Linked DNA regions of Homo sapiens: region 2 is linked to region 1. Evidence: fine-mapped expression QTL. A gene starts in region 1. The other region holds a variant in brackets. All regions are shown on one strand. Distances are between the middles of the regions. Region 1 holds the start of SUCNR1 (succinate receptor 1). Region 2 overlaps LOC107986047 (a long non-coding RNA gene).

Region 1 (8,806 bases):
ATACCTGGATAGCAAAGTGCTATCCAGTACTTTGGGAGGCTGAGGTGGAAGGATTGCCTGAGCTCAGGAGTTCGAGATGAGCCTCGCTAACCTTTTCTCTACAAAAAACCTAAAAAAATAAATTAACCAGGCGTGGTGGTGTGCACATGTAGTGCCAGTTACTCAGGAGGCTGAGGGCAGGAGGATCGCTTGAGCCCAGGAGATCAGGGCTGCAGTGAGTTATGGTCATGCTACTGCACTCCAGCCTGGGTGACAGAACAAGACCCTGTCTCAAAAATAAATAAATAAGTAAATAAAAATAAAAAGATAAAGAGAGAGAAAGAGGAAATGAAATCTGTCTCTAATTGTACACAAATGCCTGAATTTCATATACCGCTATTTCTATTCAAGGAAACAAAACAACATTATTTGTATAGAGAAACACCTGTGATTAAGGTTCAGCACATATTATCAAAAATGAATTAGCTGTGGAATTTGCATATAAACTGAAAGATAAAAGGTGAATTTGCTGTGTTTCTAGGTTAATTGTTAGTACTTCAAGGAACTTAGAATATTTTAGCTGTAGTCAGATGCTTTTAACAAATAATGTGTTTTAATTTAGCAGAACAATTCCTTTGAGTTATGCCCAGTACCAATAGATATGACACATATTTTTCTTAACTGTATAATCAGAAAAAAGTCAGTAATGCAAAAATTTCCATTAATAATGTAGCTCTTAAATGACAAGGATTTTCATAGGAAAAGGAAGTAGATTGCTTGAGTGCCTATTTTGAATAGACCATTTTCCGTGGTAAAGTAAATTTGGTTAATATAATTTATTGATTTCTAGAAGCCGGAAGAATTTTGAGACATGCACAAATACCTTCTGCTGTGTTTTTCCTTTTGCTGTTTGTCCTTTATTATTTTGCTACATGAAACCATTCATTGAAAAAGGAAGTAACCATGTAATCTTGCTTATATCTATCCAGAAACACCAAAATATCCTCCCCAATAATCTTGATTTGTTTCAACTTCTGGGGGTTGTTATTATTATTATTGTTTCTCCTTACGGGTTTAGAAGAAAGTCCTCGAATTAGATTAATTGCCCTCTTCTTTCTCTGCTTGTGACCCTTGAAGATTAGCATGACCCTTAAACCAGTTTTGTTTTCCACACAGACTTTTTGGGCTGTTAAATGTGGCTTGTAAACATTCCCAGAGACGTTGCTAGGAGAATCTTTCTATAAATACTTTAACTATTTATTTTTAACATGTTTGATTTTTATCTAAAATGTTCTATTCTTTTTGGAAGTTGGAAGATTTAAATTATTAAATTTGATAATCAATAAGTTTTATAACTAATAATTAAATTTAGTGTTAGTTTTAAATTTATTTTACTAAACTATATAAAATTGCCATATATAAGGTAAAAATGTTCCAATATCAATAATTTTATGTTTCAATCTAATATTTTCATCTTTACCATGAGTGACTCAGGAGAATAATGGAGAAGAGTTTGGATTCAGGAGTCAAACAGATAAGGCTTCAAATTATACAGCCAAATCATGTATTAGCTGTGTATTTGTGGATCATTTATTTAATCTTTATTAGGCCTTGATTTCTTCAACTGAAAATGAGTGATATTAATAATATCCACTGCATTAAATTATTGTGAATATTAAAAGAATCACTGCATACACTGTGTTATTATAGAGTGAATGCTGAAAAAATGTTAGTAGAAGTTATTATTAATTTTTTTTAGACAGGATCCCACTCTGCCACCCAGGCTGGAGTAAAGTGATGCCATCATAATTCATTACAGTCTTGACATCCTGGGCTCAAGTGATCCTCCCACCTCAGCCACCTGAGTAGCTGGGACTACAGGTGTGTTCCACCACTCCCAGCCAATTTTTTCGATTTTTAGTAGAGGAGGTCTTGCTATGTTGCCCAGGTTGGTTTTGAATTCCTGAGCTCAAGTGACCCTCCTGCTTTGGCCTCCCAAAGTGCTGGGATTATAGGTGTGAGCCACCGGACCCAGCAGAAGTTATTACTAGCATTGGATTTAATTAATATTTATATTATATTTCCCACCATTTTCTTTTTCCTCTTGAATTTCCTGATTAGTTTGCCTGGTTTACATGAACTGCTCTTCAATTTCAAGCCCATTGCATTTTCAAACATTATATAATTTGATACTATGAACATTATGAGTTTGATGGGTAGGAATTATTATTCCCCTTTTCCAAACAAGGAAATCAGGTTATGTGATTTTTTTTCAAAGATCACACAAACTAGTAAAAGGCAAAGCCAGGATTAGAACTCACTAATCTTTTTATCATGTTGGCTTTTATAAGGACCTTTTAAATGGATATTTCTGGGCAGCAAGTATTCTAACATCAATGGCACTGAATTACCATTATTATTTTAGAGAAAGTCTTCTCTCATTCATTATAAATTTCTGTAATAGCCAACAATTATTTAGCAACTAATATGTACCTCATATTATACAGTGTACGTATATACTAGTACCTCATACTATGTAGCATATGTACTTCTGCTATATACATAACAATTCATAAGATTGGTAACTCTCATTATCCCTGTTTTACAAATACAAAAACTGAAAGCTAGTGAGTAGTGAAGCCAATATTTGAAACAAAGCAGTTTGCCTCCAGGACCTATGCTCTTAAACACTGTGTTATACTACCTCTTAGCAAACAGTACTACAAGCTTTTAAAAAATATATATTTTAAAAAGTGTTCATTGTTGTACTTAACTTTTTTTTTTTTTGAGACAGGGTCTCACTCTGTCTCCCAGGTTGGAGGGCAGTGGCACAATCATGGCTCACTGCAGCCTCGGCCTCCCCAGGTTCAGGCCATCCTCAAGCCTCCCGAGTAGCTGAAACTAAAGGCACGCACCACCATGCCCCAGCTAATTTTTGCATTTTTTGTAGAGACAGAGTTTTGCCACTTTGCCCAGGCTGGTCTCCAATTCTTGGACTCAAGTGATCCGCCTGCCTTGGTCTCCCAAAGTACTGAAATTACAGGTGTGAGTCACCATGCCCGGCCAGTACTGCAAACTTTCACTGCCTTTCAAACTTCCATTGATTCTCAAGCAGTGCATCTCAACATGTTATATGTAAAAAAAAAAAAAAGACAAAACAAAAAAACTTTGCCCCCTCAAAATTTGATGTGCTATACTGAATAGAAATAGTTTCTGAGGAGGTTTCTACTCTCACAGGCAGAACTGGCTACATATTTAGTAGAGCCCAGTGCAAAAGAAATATATGGGGTCCCTTGTTAAGAAGTTATGAAACATTTTAATTAAGAATGTGACAGTAGAGCATTAACTCAACTGTGTGATCTTTTTTGAGTGTGAAGCACTGTGAGACTACACAGTAGCATACCATGAAACCCACCCTGCTCACAGGGTCATAATTCTGAATCCAGCCTTGTTCCCGTGCAGCTATCATTTTGCAGACCTGCATAAAGCTTTGTAGCAGAAATACTCGTGACCTTTTAGTAAGTCTTTCCCAGTAACACTCTAGTATCTCAACTGAGAGCATTCGGAGGAAACAGGAAGTAGGACTTGGGAGGGAAACAAGGCTACCAGGCTACAGTCTAGATGACGTGTTCTATGAAAAAGGAGAAGCATAGACCAATTTTTGTCTTAGCAGCCAGAGTGAGATGGTAGTCAGGAAGTGGGACGAAGAAAGAGGAAGCTCTCGGGAACTCCCACCACCCCACAAAGGGGGAATTACTCTTTTCTTCCATCAGAATGGTGGCAGAAACCTGTGAAATACATCCATTTGTCTTTGTTTCTTGGAAGGGGTTCATGTTAATTTATGTCTAAAATTAACAAGCCTGGCATTGGTTATTCAAATGCTTTTTGCCCTTTTAAAAATATAGACAAAAATAATGTTTTAACCTTTCTTCCTTCTAAAAGTAGAAAAGAATTGCATTACTGAAAAATACCTGTTATTAATTCTTAGACTTTGTTGTGCACAAGGGTATTGTCATTCAATTCTGTAGGCAGTCAAGAATCAGAGTCGGTGCTTTTAGAATCCAAGTACATAGGCTTAAGCTCTGGTCCCTCCCGTTATTGATTCTGCAATCTTGAGAAAGTTAATTGACCTCTCTGAACCTTAGCTTTTTAATCTGCAAAATGAGAAAAATCTTAAATAATAACAACCTCAGAGGATTACTATATGCATTTGATGCATAAAGGTACTTAGTGTAATACCTGCCTGCCACATCACAAGAACTCAACAAATTATAGATATTTTTATTTCATGTAAATGCACATGTTTGTATACATAAATATTCATACATGTATAAATATATTTTACACATGTATATAAAGTGTGTAATATAGACACATATGTATGTATATATGTATGTGTATATATACATACATATATTTTGAGTTCCTGAGTTTTTAAGCTGTCAGATATTGGTGAGGAGAAATGCTTAGTTAGGAGGATGCCTGTAACAGAGCTTCTTTTTGGGCTTCTGCCTGTCATTGCTAACTCAATATTCAACTTACATAGCATTTAAATTGAATTACTGCTGCCTGCACAATTATGGGCTTTCTTAGTATAATCCCTATGCTTCACATCAAGAAGACTGAGTGTTTACTTGAATCTAAACCTAATATAATGCTTGGAAAAAGCCAGGTGTGCTTCCTGTCTGAAATGGTGGTAATGTACTTCCAGATGTTTTTCAGAGCATTGATTGGGATATATAAATTGCCATCTATTAAGGTTATTTTACTTAGCATCTCTCTCCCTAATCCCTAGCTATCTGATGTATCTTTTATGTGTTTCTTGATTTTAAGCACAGAAAATAAAATGGAAAATAACTTGAAGCTCTAGTATCTTTTTGCTAGTACACCAACATAGCATATATCCAGGTTTCCCTTTAAAATTTCAGTTTTATAGTTCCCTCAAAGTTATTGAAAACAGAGGTTTCGTTATTATATTCTCAATACAGAATTCACTAAGAAAATTAATTTTAAAAAAGAAGAAAAGCAGAGGCAACTGTATTCCCAATATAAGCAGTATTTACCACTTCTTATTGTGTAAATATGCAAATAAAATGAAAATAAGGAATGCTTCTCTGTTGCTTTGGTAGTGGATAAAATAAGTTCAACAGTGTTTTTCTAAAAATCTATTTGGTAAATGTGTTTCCTGTGAAATGAGTTACTTGTTTTTTGTCATTCAATTGCAAAACTGCATGTGAAAATAAAATAAATGTGAATGTGAAAATAAAAGCCTCACAAAAATTCCTCTGCATGAACATCTCTGACTGGGAGGTTTGACTGAATAAATTATTCCTGGGCTTTTGAATTATTAATCTTGGCTGCAGGATATGCAAATAGGATATGCAAATAGGACACTGTAATAACCATGTCCAGTGGCACAACACTGGGTCAGAAGCTATATCCAGCTGCTGGCAGAGTTCCTGTCAAGGGATCAAGTCTTCCAACAGAATGGTAAGCTACATGGCAAATTGTGCCTCTCAGTGTATAAAGTAAGGCCAGATTTCCTTCTAAAGGTGACCTGTGAGCAATTAAGGTTTTCAGTATTAAGTGTTTAAATTAATTCTTTATAAATAGATGTAAAACAGCAAAATAATTGAAAAAAAAAAGTCATTTTTATCTCTACGTTTATTTTTCAACAAATTAACTGTCTTCTTTTAGTTGTCAAATACTAATTTTATTTTATGTAAAAGGATTTATTATATTTGCTAACATCTCAACAACTTATATTTCAACAAAATAGTAATTGGATTTACCTAAATAAATATAACTACTTATGGGGAAAAATTAAAGTTCCTAAATGATTTGAAACAATCATGTATTTGATACATACACACACACACACACACACACACACACACACATATACATACATATATATATATATATATATATTTTTTTTTTTTTTTTTTTTTTTTAAGACAGAGTTTCACTCTTGTCACCCAGGCTAGAGTGTCTGAGTGCCAGAGTGACACATTTACAGCATGTGTTGGCTCACTGCAACCTCCGCCTCTGGGGTTCAAGCAATTCTCCTGCCTCAGCCTGCAGAGTAGCTAGGATTACAAGCGCCCACCACCACGCCCGGCTATTTTTTTTGGATTTTTTAGTAGAGATGGAGTTTCACCATGTTGGTCAGGTTGGTCTCAAACTCCTGACCTCAGGTGATCCACTCATCTCGGCCTCTCCAAGTGTTGGGATTCCAGGCATGAGCCACTGTGCTGGGGCATAATATTTTTATGTTTAGAAAATAATGTATTTGGGGGAATTTTCAGGCATCCTAAAAATTAAATTTAACATTTATGTGTGTAAAAATGATATTACCCAATAATTAATTTACTTAGGAAAAATGAAAAATTGCAGAAACCATTTCTATTCTACCTTCCATAACTTTTCAAAATGTGTGTGGTATTCTTAAAGAAGTTAATACACAATTTGTGCCATACTATTACTTTTTAATACCTTAATTTCTGGTGTAATGTATGGAATACATAAAAATAAAGTTACAAATGTTAAATTATTATATCTTTTCAGTGTGAATATATATTTTTGCTCAAATTATTTAGTAATCAAAAAAGTAATTTGTTAAAAAAAATTCTCATGTTACCATGTAAATTTGCCTTAAGGTAGCACTTAAAAGTAAACATTTTACAAATGTTATTTGTTTAATTGTGATGACTATAAAAACAAACAATTAAAAAGCTAAGAAACTATCACATATATATTTTAAAGTAAATTTCAAAAATGCAGATTTTCAAAAGGCTGAATATATTTAAAGTAAAAAACATTTTCAAGTTAAGTATTATTGGTCTGCTTATGTGAGTAAATTAGATATTGCTTCTAGTTCAATAATTCTAACAGTTTTAGATATATTTTTGGACTGGAAACTAAAGATTTCACTTTAATTTCTGCTCTTAAAAAATACCTATTCAAAATAATTCATCCAAATCAGTTACAATTTATTTATCACTATTTCCATTTCCTAAAAATTAAGAATATAGCCACTAGATAGCAGAAGAGAGAATATGAATTTTTCATGAGGGAATTTTCTCTTTAATTGGGAGTTTTGCTTAAAGGAGCAACTTACTTCATATGTTTATAGAATTGCGATGCCACACTAAAAACATACCCAACTATAAACATATCCAATTTGAAATATAGTATCTTCAAAATTTTGTATCCTAGTGAAGTTAAATTGGTCTGCAAATATTGCACAGCTCATATTTATAAAATCATAATCTATTAGAATTATGAACTTAGAAAAAATGAAACAAATGTATCAAAAAATTATAAAACATCATAAAAAAATCTCATTTTTATGAATAAAAATTCAGGTAAATATTAAAATGTAAAAGGGTACCCAAATATTAGGAGTGGTCTGTTTACAGACCATTTTTATTTCTTATTTTTGCCTATTTGATTTTATGAGTGTTACACCTTAACAATAATTTTACACATACATTTTTAAAAAGTTGTTTCAAAAAAATGAAGAAACAACTGTATGAGAAGAAAGACAAATATGATAATTTAGTCATTCATTTCTCTTATTTCAGCTCTACTCCTTCCCTACTACTCCTTCAATCCCCGACCTTCTGGGCTACTATAAAGCAGAATGCTCCTTGACTTTCATGTGACCCGTCACCTGCCTGAGTGATAGTTGCAGGAAATCAGGCTCTAGTTGCACAAGTCTTTGTGGCTATATTTTCCTTCCATTGCAGTCAAATCTTTCTGCTGTGCACAATACATAAGCTATTAACATTACCAGTGGTGACTAGGCAGAAAGATAAACGTTATGACCAGAAAAAAAGGAAATGCAAAAGTGAAACAAATTTCTTGTGTCAAGGAAACTTTCTATACCTTAATTTTCATTTGAATTTGTGCACCAGCTTTTTGAGTACCCACAAAATAACAAGAGCTCAGAAATAAGGCCTGAGAAGGTCCAACATTTAAAACTTGGGCAAAGAAGGATTAAGCCACAAAAGAGCATGAAAATGGAGAAAGGAGGAAAACAAGGAGATTGTTGTGTCATAGAAGATAGGAAGAGAGTGCTTCCAGAAAGTGTGGACTTAAAAGCTACTGAGAATAAATAATAATAGTAAAAACTGACCATTGAGCTAAAAAAAATAAAGTTTGTTAATATGTTAAAGCCTATTGACATTTTTGCTATATTTCTAGAAATTTAAAGTTTTTAATATTATCAAATAGATGCCAATTTTGAGAGAAAAAATGATAGGAAATTTAGATAAAAGGAGAAAGGAAATAATAAAAACTACCTGAAATCTCATCATTAGAGATAAAGCTATTAACATTTTGATGCACGTCTTTCTAGACTTCTTATGCTTATTAATTTCAGGTGTCATTTCTTAATTAAATGCTTCAGTTTTAAAATTTATCCTGGTAGATATTTAATTTTGCCTTATACAAATGTGTTTCTAAACTACAGCTACTACTACTACAATTACTAATTTTTAATACTTATCATATTATATTATATATAGTGTTGACTTTCACAGTGAAATAAGCAATGAGCTTAATCTGATGGTCTTGCTGCTTATCTGGCCTTGGAGAAAATATTTATAAAAATGCTTTGTAAATAGTCAGGTGTTCATATTCATCTCTTCACTCAACAAAGATTTATAGATCACCTACTATCTGCTGGTCACTGTGCCAGATGTGGACAATAAAAAATGAGTAAGACAAAGTTATACAAAATTCTAAGAAGTTTAGTATACAATGAAAGCATAAATGGGAGGACCTACTTTAGACTGAGGGTCAGACAGCCTACCTTGGGAAA
Region 2 (8,806 bases), 60 kb after region 1:
GGCTCGGGACCGGCAGCCCGCCATGCCTGAGCCTCCCACCCCCTCCATGGGCTCCTGTGCGGCCCCGAGCCTCCCAGACAAGTGCCACCCCCTGCTCCACGGCGCCCAGTCCCATCGACCACCCAAGGGCTGAGGAGTGCGAGCGCACGGCGCGGGACTGGCAGGCAGCTCCACCTGCAGCTCCGGTGCGGGATCCACTGGGTGAAGCCAGCTGGGCTCCTGAGTCTGGTGGGGACGTGGAGAACCTTTATGTCTAGCTCCGGGATTGTAAATACACCAATCAGCACTCTGTATCTAGCTCAAGGTTTGTAAACACACCAATCAGCACCCTGTGTCTAGCTCAGGGTTTGTGAATGCACCAATCAACACTCTGTGTCTAGCTACTCTGGTGGGGCCTTGGAGAACCTTTGTGTCTAGCTCAGGGATTGTAAATACACCAATCTGCACTCTGTGTCTAGCTCAGAGTTTGTAAACACACCAATCAGCACCCTGTGTCTAGCTCAGGGTTTGTGAATGCACCAATCGACACTCTGCATCTAGCTACTCTGGTGGGGCCTTGGAGAACCTTTGCGTGGACACTCTGTATCTAGCTAATCTGGTGGGGACGTGTAGAACCTTTGTGTCTAGCTCAGGGATTGTAAACGCACCAAATCAGCGCCCTGTCAAAACAGACCACTGGGCTCTACCAATCAGCAGGATGTGGGTGGGGCCAGATAAGAGAATAAAAGCAGGTTGCCCCATCCAGCAGTGGCAACCCGCTCGGGTCCCCTTCCACACTGTGGAAGCTTTGTTCTTTCACTCTTTGCAATAAATCTTGCTGCTGCTCAGTCTTTGGGGCCGCACTGCCTTTATGAGCTGTGACACTCACCGCGAAGGTCTGCAGCTTCACTCCTGAGCCAGCGAGACCACAGAACCCACCAGAAGGAAGAAACTCCGAACACATCCGAACATCAGAAGGAACAAACTCCAGACGCAGATGCGCCACCTGAAGAGCTGTAACACTCACCGCGAGGGTCCGCGGCTTTATTCTCGAAGTCAGTGAGACCAAGAACCCACCAATTCCGGAAACATTATGGCCGCACTGCAGAATACCAGGTATTGCCCCTACCAACCCCGGACATTGCCTGTCATTAGCGCTGTCACCAGCACTGTTCAGACTCTGGAACTCTTGTCTCTGCTACCTGCACTGGGACAAAAATCTCCTTTGTCCCTGTATCTTTGCATCACTTGCTCTAGAGTGGATTTCCTGGCAGGTTATATGCCTTTATCCTCGGTACTGCAAAATCTGCAAAAGCAAGCGCCCATCATTTCTTACTTTTGTGGACACCGAAAGTAATGGATAATTCCTTACCCCATTCCTTGCCCAAGAAAGGAAGGGACTGCATGTGATAGGCAGCCACCACCACCAGTGATATCAGCCTAACATATCATGTTTATATTATTCAGTTAGAAAAGGAAAAAATGGCCACTTTTAAACAACATTTATATAATAAACAGTTAAAAAAAAGGAAGAAGCTGCACAACCCAAAGAATGTAGAAGAAAGAGCCCCTCTGCTACATCTAAACCAAACCTGTTACTACTTTGCCATGTTACCTTGAACAGGACCCTTCACCTCTCTGCTCCTGTTTCATTGTCTTACAAATGAGGGGTTGGACCAAGTGATCTTAAGGTCCCTTCTTTTTTGATATTCTCTAACTAAAACATGACAGTATCAAAGGGGGAGACTAGGTGGCTTAGTCTGTGGCTTTGCCAATCAGATCTCAATTGGAAGAAACAATCATGAGGTTGAAAGCAGGTTTGTGCAAACAGACAAGAAAGAAAACCAAGGTATTTTTTAAAAATTGTATCATTTGTGCTCTGATCCAGAAAGGGAAATGGGTTTTTTTGTTTGTTTGTTTGTTTGTTTGTTTTGGAAATGGAGTCTCGCAATTCTCCTGCTTCAGCCTCCCGAGTAGCTGGCACTATCAGTGCACGCCGCCACGCCTGGCTAATTTTTTCTTTTTTAGTAGAAATGGAGTTTCACCGTGTTGCCCAGGCTGGTCTCAAACTCCTGAACTCAGTCAATCTGCCCACCTCGGCCTCCCAAAGTGCTAGGATTACAGGCGTGAGCCACCGCACCTGGCCAAGGGAAAGATTTTAAAATTCATCTCAAGGGGTAAAATATTTGTCACCAACTAGAAAGCAGAATATCATATCAGAAAAAATCACTCTCACCTTTGTCCATATGCTGGAAGGCAACTGGAGTAGCCATCTGGATTCATTCATAAAAATTTGCTCTGTTAAAGCAAAGTGGATACAAGAGCACTTGGTAAGCCAGGACTGTATTGTTTCTGCATCATTAAGGTTACTCCTGTTGTCATTTTCATTGAAATCATAGGCATCATCTGGCAGGCTTTTTTGTTTTTTTGTTTTTTTTTTAATTAAGGGCTAGGGTTTTGTTGTGTCAACCAGGCTGGAGTGCAGTGGCATGGCCATAGCTCACTGCAGCCTCAAACTCCTGAAACAATTCTCCTGCTTCAGCCTCCCCAGTAGCTAGCACTACAGGCGTGCACCACCACACCTGGAAATATTTTTTCATTTAATATTTTATAGATACAAGGTCATGCTGTGTTGCCTAGGCTGATCTCAAACTCCTGGCCTCAAGTGATCCTCTCACCTTCGCCCAAAGTGCTGGGATTACAGGTGTGAGCCACCATGCCTGGTCTGGCACTGGCAGGCTTTGGTTTCTAATGCCTAACTTGCCAGCTACTTCCTCTAATCTAATTTTTTACAAACCCAAGAAGCTCTGAAGATGAGACAAAATAATTTTTTGAAAAATTTTCTTTATAAACACACACATACATATATCAAAAACAGAGAGCCTGGTCATGACATAACATTGTATTGAAGGGGTTCTTTTTATTTTTCTCAGATCTTAGGTTTATTCATCTTTTATTTTTCACCATAGAAATCCTATGACTCATAAAAACACAGGGCCAGGAGTCCTGTGACTCTATATTTTCATAGAGAGAACATGATTTGGAAGACCAGACTTAATAATTTTACTCTGTCTCAAATTTTGAATAGTGTTTGCTTTAAAAGGCATCTTATCACCGAAAGCAAAGTGAGAAAAATGAAGTCAACATTCACTGACAATTCTTGCCACTCAACCCTTTAAAAAGATAACCAACTACATAGTTACTGAGGGGTCCTTCATTATTAGGGAGTAAGGGGAATAACTTTCACATCTCTATAGTATTTATGGATCTGACATCTGGATAATAAGGTGTTTTGTAAGTAAATCTTTCGATAACATTGTTTTAATTTTCTGAGAAAAACTCAACCTTATTATCAAAACGTATTTCACCTGACTATATTTTCCCCAAATATAAAATTTACCAATAGGAGCAATCAGTCAGTACATACTAGGTCTTACTCATTAGTATATTAATACCAATTTCACAACACTGCATAAACAAATCAGCTTCATAGAATAAAATTCTAAAATATTCTGATGTAAATTAGTAAATGTATGCAGGGAATTATTTATTTACATATTAACATTAAAACATTTGAAAAGATTACACATCAACTTGAAGTACAAACACTCTGCAGATCATCTTACATTTTCTCTTGTGCCTTCTCAGGCTAAATGTTCTTAATGAAAAATGACAAGAAAAAGGTGTGAATAGTCAGCAGTGTTAATGCTAATTTTTGAGGTAAAGGAGACAACTAGCTTCAAATAATATTTGAGTGAAAATGACTATTTCCTCAATCATTAGTCATAGGGAAAGGAGAATGAGAACACTAAAAAAAATTATTTAAATAGCACTTTATATTCAAATATTTTAATTAAAAATTCATTAAATATTTTAAACTAAAGAAGTAAAGCATTTGGAACCTAAGCTCCAGGCAACTAAAATTTGGTCAAAGTATTTCATGTACCTGTCAAATTGCAGATAAAAGTTGTAGTTTCTTTTTCTTTTTCTTTTTTTGTATTCATCTTTGGCATTTAAAGTAGATTAGCTAGTTGTTGGGTGTGGACATCTGTGTCTTGAGCTTTTCTCCTGGAAATCAATATTTATTTAATAAACCTTTTTTCTTTAAAGGCAAATTATCATCTGTTTTTTCAGGGTGGTCCCGGTACTTTCCAGTTATAAAATAAAATCGGCTGAGATTCAAGAAGTTCATTTGGCTTGAGGTTAAAAAGTAAATTTTGGCCCTTTTGAATTGAAACTTGGTTAGTCAGAACCTCTAATCATTTCCCTCTAAAAAACCTAGGGTTATTTTATTTTAGAAGGAGACGACTATTGAATCCATGAGTCACTCTAAGGCAAGTCTTAATATTAATCTTTAATTCTTTATATTAAATCTCAAAGGGCCGGGCACGGTGGCTAACGCCTATAATTTCAGCACTTTGGGAGGCCAAGGCGGGTGGATCACTTAAGATCAGGAGTTCAAGACCAGCCTGGCCAATATGGTGAAACCC[C/T]GTCTCTACTAAAAATACAAACATTAGCCAGGCATGGTGGCACGTACCTGTAATCCCTGCTATAGGGAGGCTGAGGCAGGATAACCGCTTGAACCTGTGAGGCAGAGGTTGCAGTGAGCCAAGATTGCGCCACTGCACTCCAGCCTGGGTGACAGAGCAAAATTTAAAAAAAAAAGAAAAAAAAAAACTCAAAGGGATATTCTGTTCTGTTCTGGGATCCCCAGTCTCCACTCTACACATAATATTGCACATTTCAAACCAAGATTAAGAAGGTGAACGAACTCAGCACTGGCAGAAAAAATCCCTTGACTTTTGCAAAGTCAAGCCAATTCATTCTGAGCCCATATGAAGAATATGTTATTGTTCTGATACCTTAAGCCAGGTTTTTTTCCATTATTTTTAAAGTACCCCTTTAATTAATTAGAAAAGCATAAAATTAAATTTTAAAGCATTTTGTTTTACGCAATCAATTCATCTTTAGAAATGCATAAGAGAACGTAAGGATTGTCATCCTTCATTTTACAGAGGAAAGTGATAATAATCATTTGCTGAGTCATCAACACTACAAAATAAAGCCCTGGAGAAAAGGTTAGCATTTAGACAGTCTTTGCATCTGGGGTAAGTTTAGAAAACTAAAAAAGCTGCATTAAAACAAAAAGAAAGAAAAAAATTTTAAAAAACTAAAAACAGACCAGATGTTGACTGCTGAATGTCAATGGCAACAAGAGAAAAACAACACATGTGGATTTAATGTTCTTTCTGCAGATAGAATCTCAGAAAAACATATTCTCTAAGAGATCAGACCAATTTTGTTTGAATGTAAACCACTGCCTAACACACCCTACCACATTCCTATGCCTGGAGAAACAGGAAAGATGAAGATGAATAGGCCTAACATGAGCCCAAACTTCAAGAAGAGTCAGAAAATTGCCAGTGAATGAAATAAGTAAGAGCTCACACTTCATGGATATAACTCACCACTGCCATCACACCACATTTTCATCTGCCTGTAGAAAAATCAACTAGGTATTGCATGATCTAGATATCAGTTATTGGGATAGTCATGAAAAGTATTAGTCTTGCTTTCATGTAATTTGCAGAGAATCACACAGTTGGAACATTAAAAATGGGTTCAGGCCTGGCACAGTGGCTCACGCCTGTAATCCCAACACTTTGGGAGGCTGAGCCAGGTGGATCACAAGGTCAGGAGATCAAGACCATCCTGGCTAACATGGTGAAACTAAATCTCTACTAAAAAAAATACAAAAAATTAACCATGCGTGGTGGCAAGTGCTTGTAGTCCCAGCTACTCGGGAGGCTGAGGCAGGAGAATTGCTTGAACCTGGGAGGTGGAGGTTGCAGTGAGCCGAGATCATGCCACTGCACTCCAGCCTGGGTGACAGAGTAAGACTCCATGTTAAAAAAAAAAATTGTGTTCACTATTAGCTATGTTTATTTTCAGTCTCTGAGTCTCTGCAAACCTGTTCCCTCTTACGTGACCCCTGCCTTAAATAGGGTCATCCACAACCAACCAAATTCTAAAACCCTTTCAGAAGGTACAAAAGGAAAAGCCCAGAATAGATTTCTGAAGCTGAGACTCTTCATTATATATATTATTTCTGCCTCATAACTCTATGATGCTGAATTGAAATTCTCTGGCCCTTTTTCTCAACCATATTCCAATAACTGATAAGTTGAGTCACAGGGTAATGATACAATAAACAAGATTGGAAACACAGAGTTCCTTCCTAGGAAGATTTCACAGTCTAATGCATGAAGACAGGAAGGTAATTCACTATGATAATACAGTATGGGGGAGTGCTGAGAAACAGGAATGCACAAGAAACTGAAAGCAGAGAGATGTGCACTTAACCCAGACTTGAGGGGGTACGATGGGGGTCACAGAAGTCTTCCTTAAAGATGTGACCATTTTGCTAAATCTTGAAGAACTAGTGCAAGTAAGCCATGTAAAGAAATAAAGGAAAAGGCATTCTGGGCAGAAGGAATGGCCCAAGCAAGAGCTTGTAGGCCCAAGAAAGCCTGAGAAGTTCCAGGACCTACAAGTTGTTGCAAGAGAAGAGGAACTTTGTTTTGTTCACGAATGTGTCTCTAGTGCCTCAAAAAGTGCTGGGCACAAAATAGGTTCAAGGCCTTGAATGCTTGGATAAATGAACCCAACCATTAATTAACACTGTTGGCTTTTGAATGGAGAGGCAATGTTAGAGGGGCAGAGGCAGATGGAAGGAGATTATTCAGGAGGCTTTGGCTCTAGTGCAATGTGATGGAGGACTAGACAAAAACAGTGGAGGCAGACATGGGGTGAAGCGGGAGAAGTGGAGGTGTATTTTGGAAGTATAGCAGAAAAGACCTTGTATTTAGGAGAATGAAAGGATTGAGGACTACTCCATGGCTGAAGGCATCCAGGGAGTTGTGTTTTATTCAAATCTAACAGTGGGAGTGACGATGGAGATAAATCAAAATAAGCAATAGTTATGGAGCATTAGCATTTAAGTGTAAATTGTTTAACTGATGTCAGTATTTCTTCTAATCTTACTATAATTTTGTGTCATAAGACAAGTATGTCAATATTTTGCTTAACTCTTTTAGCGAGTTTTAAAAAATTAGCGACAATAATTGTATTTCTTAGTGGCTTAGCAGAGGGTTTTTACTTTCTCCTTTTTATATGTTTGAATTGTCTGAACTTTTCACAAAGATCGTGTAATTTCAAGTTGGTCACATTCACCACACTTTATGCAATATATACATCTCTGAAACTCTTGCATAATAAATACTTGCAAAATCCAAGACTTACTTCGTTAGAGCAGAGCCAGTATTTCTGTCTGACACTTATAGTGGTGCCACTGTGGGCAACAGTACAAACACAATTATAATTCACTATCATTTTCAAATTAACATTATTTTAAAATTTATAAATAGACTTTTAAGTTATTTTGTAGTAACAAAAATTTATGCAAGTCAAATACACATAAAAGGCAACTACACTGCACTTTTACAGGAAAAAATGTATTTGCTTTTTGTACAGTTATATGTTTGAATAGAATATACCCTCATATCTTTGATTTATAATTTTTATTTGCACAGTTTAGACTCTATTCAGGCAAGGATGCCCTATCCAGGCATGGTAAGCCACCTATTGACTGATAACAAGTTGTAGGTGAATCACATAAGAGAAGAATAAAGCCCAAGATCTCCTTGACAAATCAAAATTCAAAGGGAGGGTAAATATGTACAACTATTATGTATTCATAATAATTAAAAATAAAATATTTTAAAAAGGGAGAGTGTTATATATATCTATCTAAATTTCTATATATTAAGTAAAAAAAGTATGACTACTTTTGTATAATCTTTAAACAATACACAGAATTTAAATGTTCTTATTATCTCTGTAGTTTCTATCTCATCCAGTCTCTGAGAAACCGAAAAAATGGAGAGTCTTTAACTGAAAGATGCTAGAGTCACCTCAGTGGCCATTTGAAGACCCACTGTATCTTCTGTGCCTTGAAAAGAAACCCTGGGTGATCTGTTCTTTGTCCACCTTAGTTGTATATGGGGTGAGGGGGGTGAGAGATGGTTTGAACATTTTCATTTAGCTGAATTGGATATAACTGAAGAAATAAAAAAAGAATAGATGCTGAATGAAACAAGAGGAACAGACATCCAGAAGTGAGGCACCTTGTGACTGACCGCTACCTGACCTGACACATCACACGCCATACACACAATAACTGGTTTCCACTTCTACTTCCTCCTTTAATAGAACATAGAAGTCTTTTTTTCTTATCCTGGTTCACAATCATCAAAATATTTTTTGGCTCTTTTCACTGGTAAAAAGTATCTATAATCTCTCCGATAAACTAAAAGCACTTTCTTCTTCAAACAGAATGTTACTGATGTGGGGAACATCTTGAGAAAATGCTCTACTTTCTAAAGTAGCCTTGTGACTGGTCTCAAGACAGAAACACTTAAATAGAATCCTATGAAGAGCCACCATCCTCCACACACATATCTTTTCATGAAATGTGGGAAGTGGGAGGCAGGAGAGGGCTTCAGAAACATTTTTGTGAGATGGTTTATGGAATGGAGTTTAGGTACACATAAACCTAGACAGACATACAAATATATACTTGTTTACCCAGGTTGAAATTCTGAACCTTCTGAAGTCTGTCATTCATGAGAAGGTACTTAATTATTCATAGACTGGTTACAAAATTTGTACTTATTTTCCAGGAAATGTAAGTAGAAAAAGACATGGTTCTGGTGTTAAATAAAACCCTATCTGTGCAGAAGACATTTGATTCATTGTTCAAAACACA

Evidence for each region. PIP is the estimated chance that this variant, and not a neighbour inherited with it, causes the effect.
Region 2: its variant is fine-mapped to the expression of SUCNR1 in whole blood (TOPMed, PIP 0.97).

The regions. Positions count from the first base shown.
Region 1 is chr3:151,868,238-151,877,043 of GRCh38, forward strand. SUCNR1 (succinate receptor 1) reads left to right here and starts at 5,406. Exons shown (of 3, transcript NM_033050.6): 1 at 5,406-5,469. All of the region lies in intron 1 of AADACL2-AS1 (AADACL2 antisense RNA 1), which reads right to left.
Region 2 is chr3:151,928,400-151,937,205 of GRCh38, forward strand. LOC107986047 (a long non-coding RNA gene) reads right to left here. Exons shown (of 3, transcript XR_001740567.1): 2 at 3,926-4,047; 3 at 2,153-2,277. Among named protein-coding and RNA genes, the nearest start is that of AADACL2-AS1, 4.6 kb to the left of the region's middle. The variant C/T (reference allele first, on the strand shown) is at 4,470.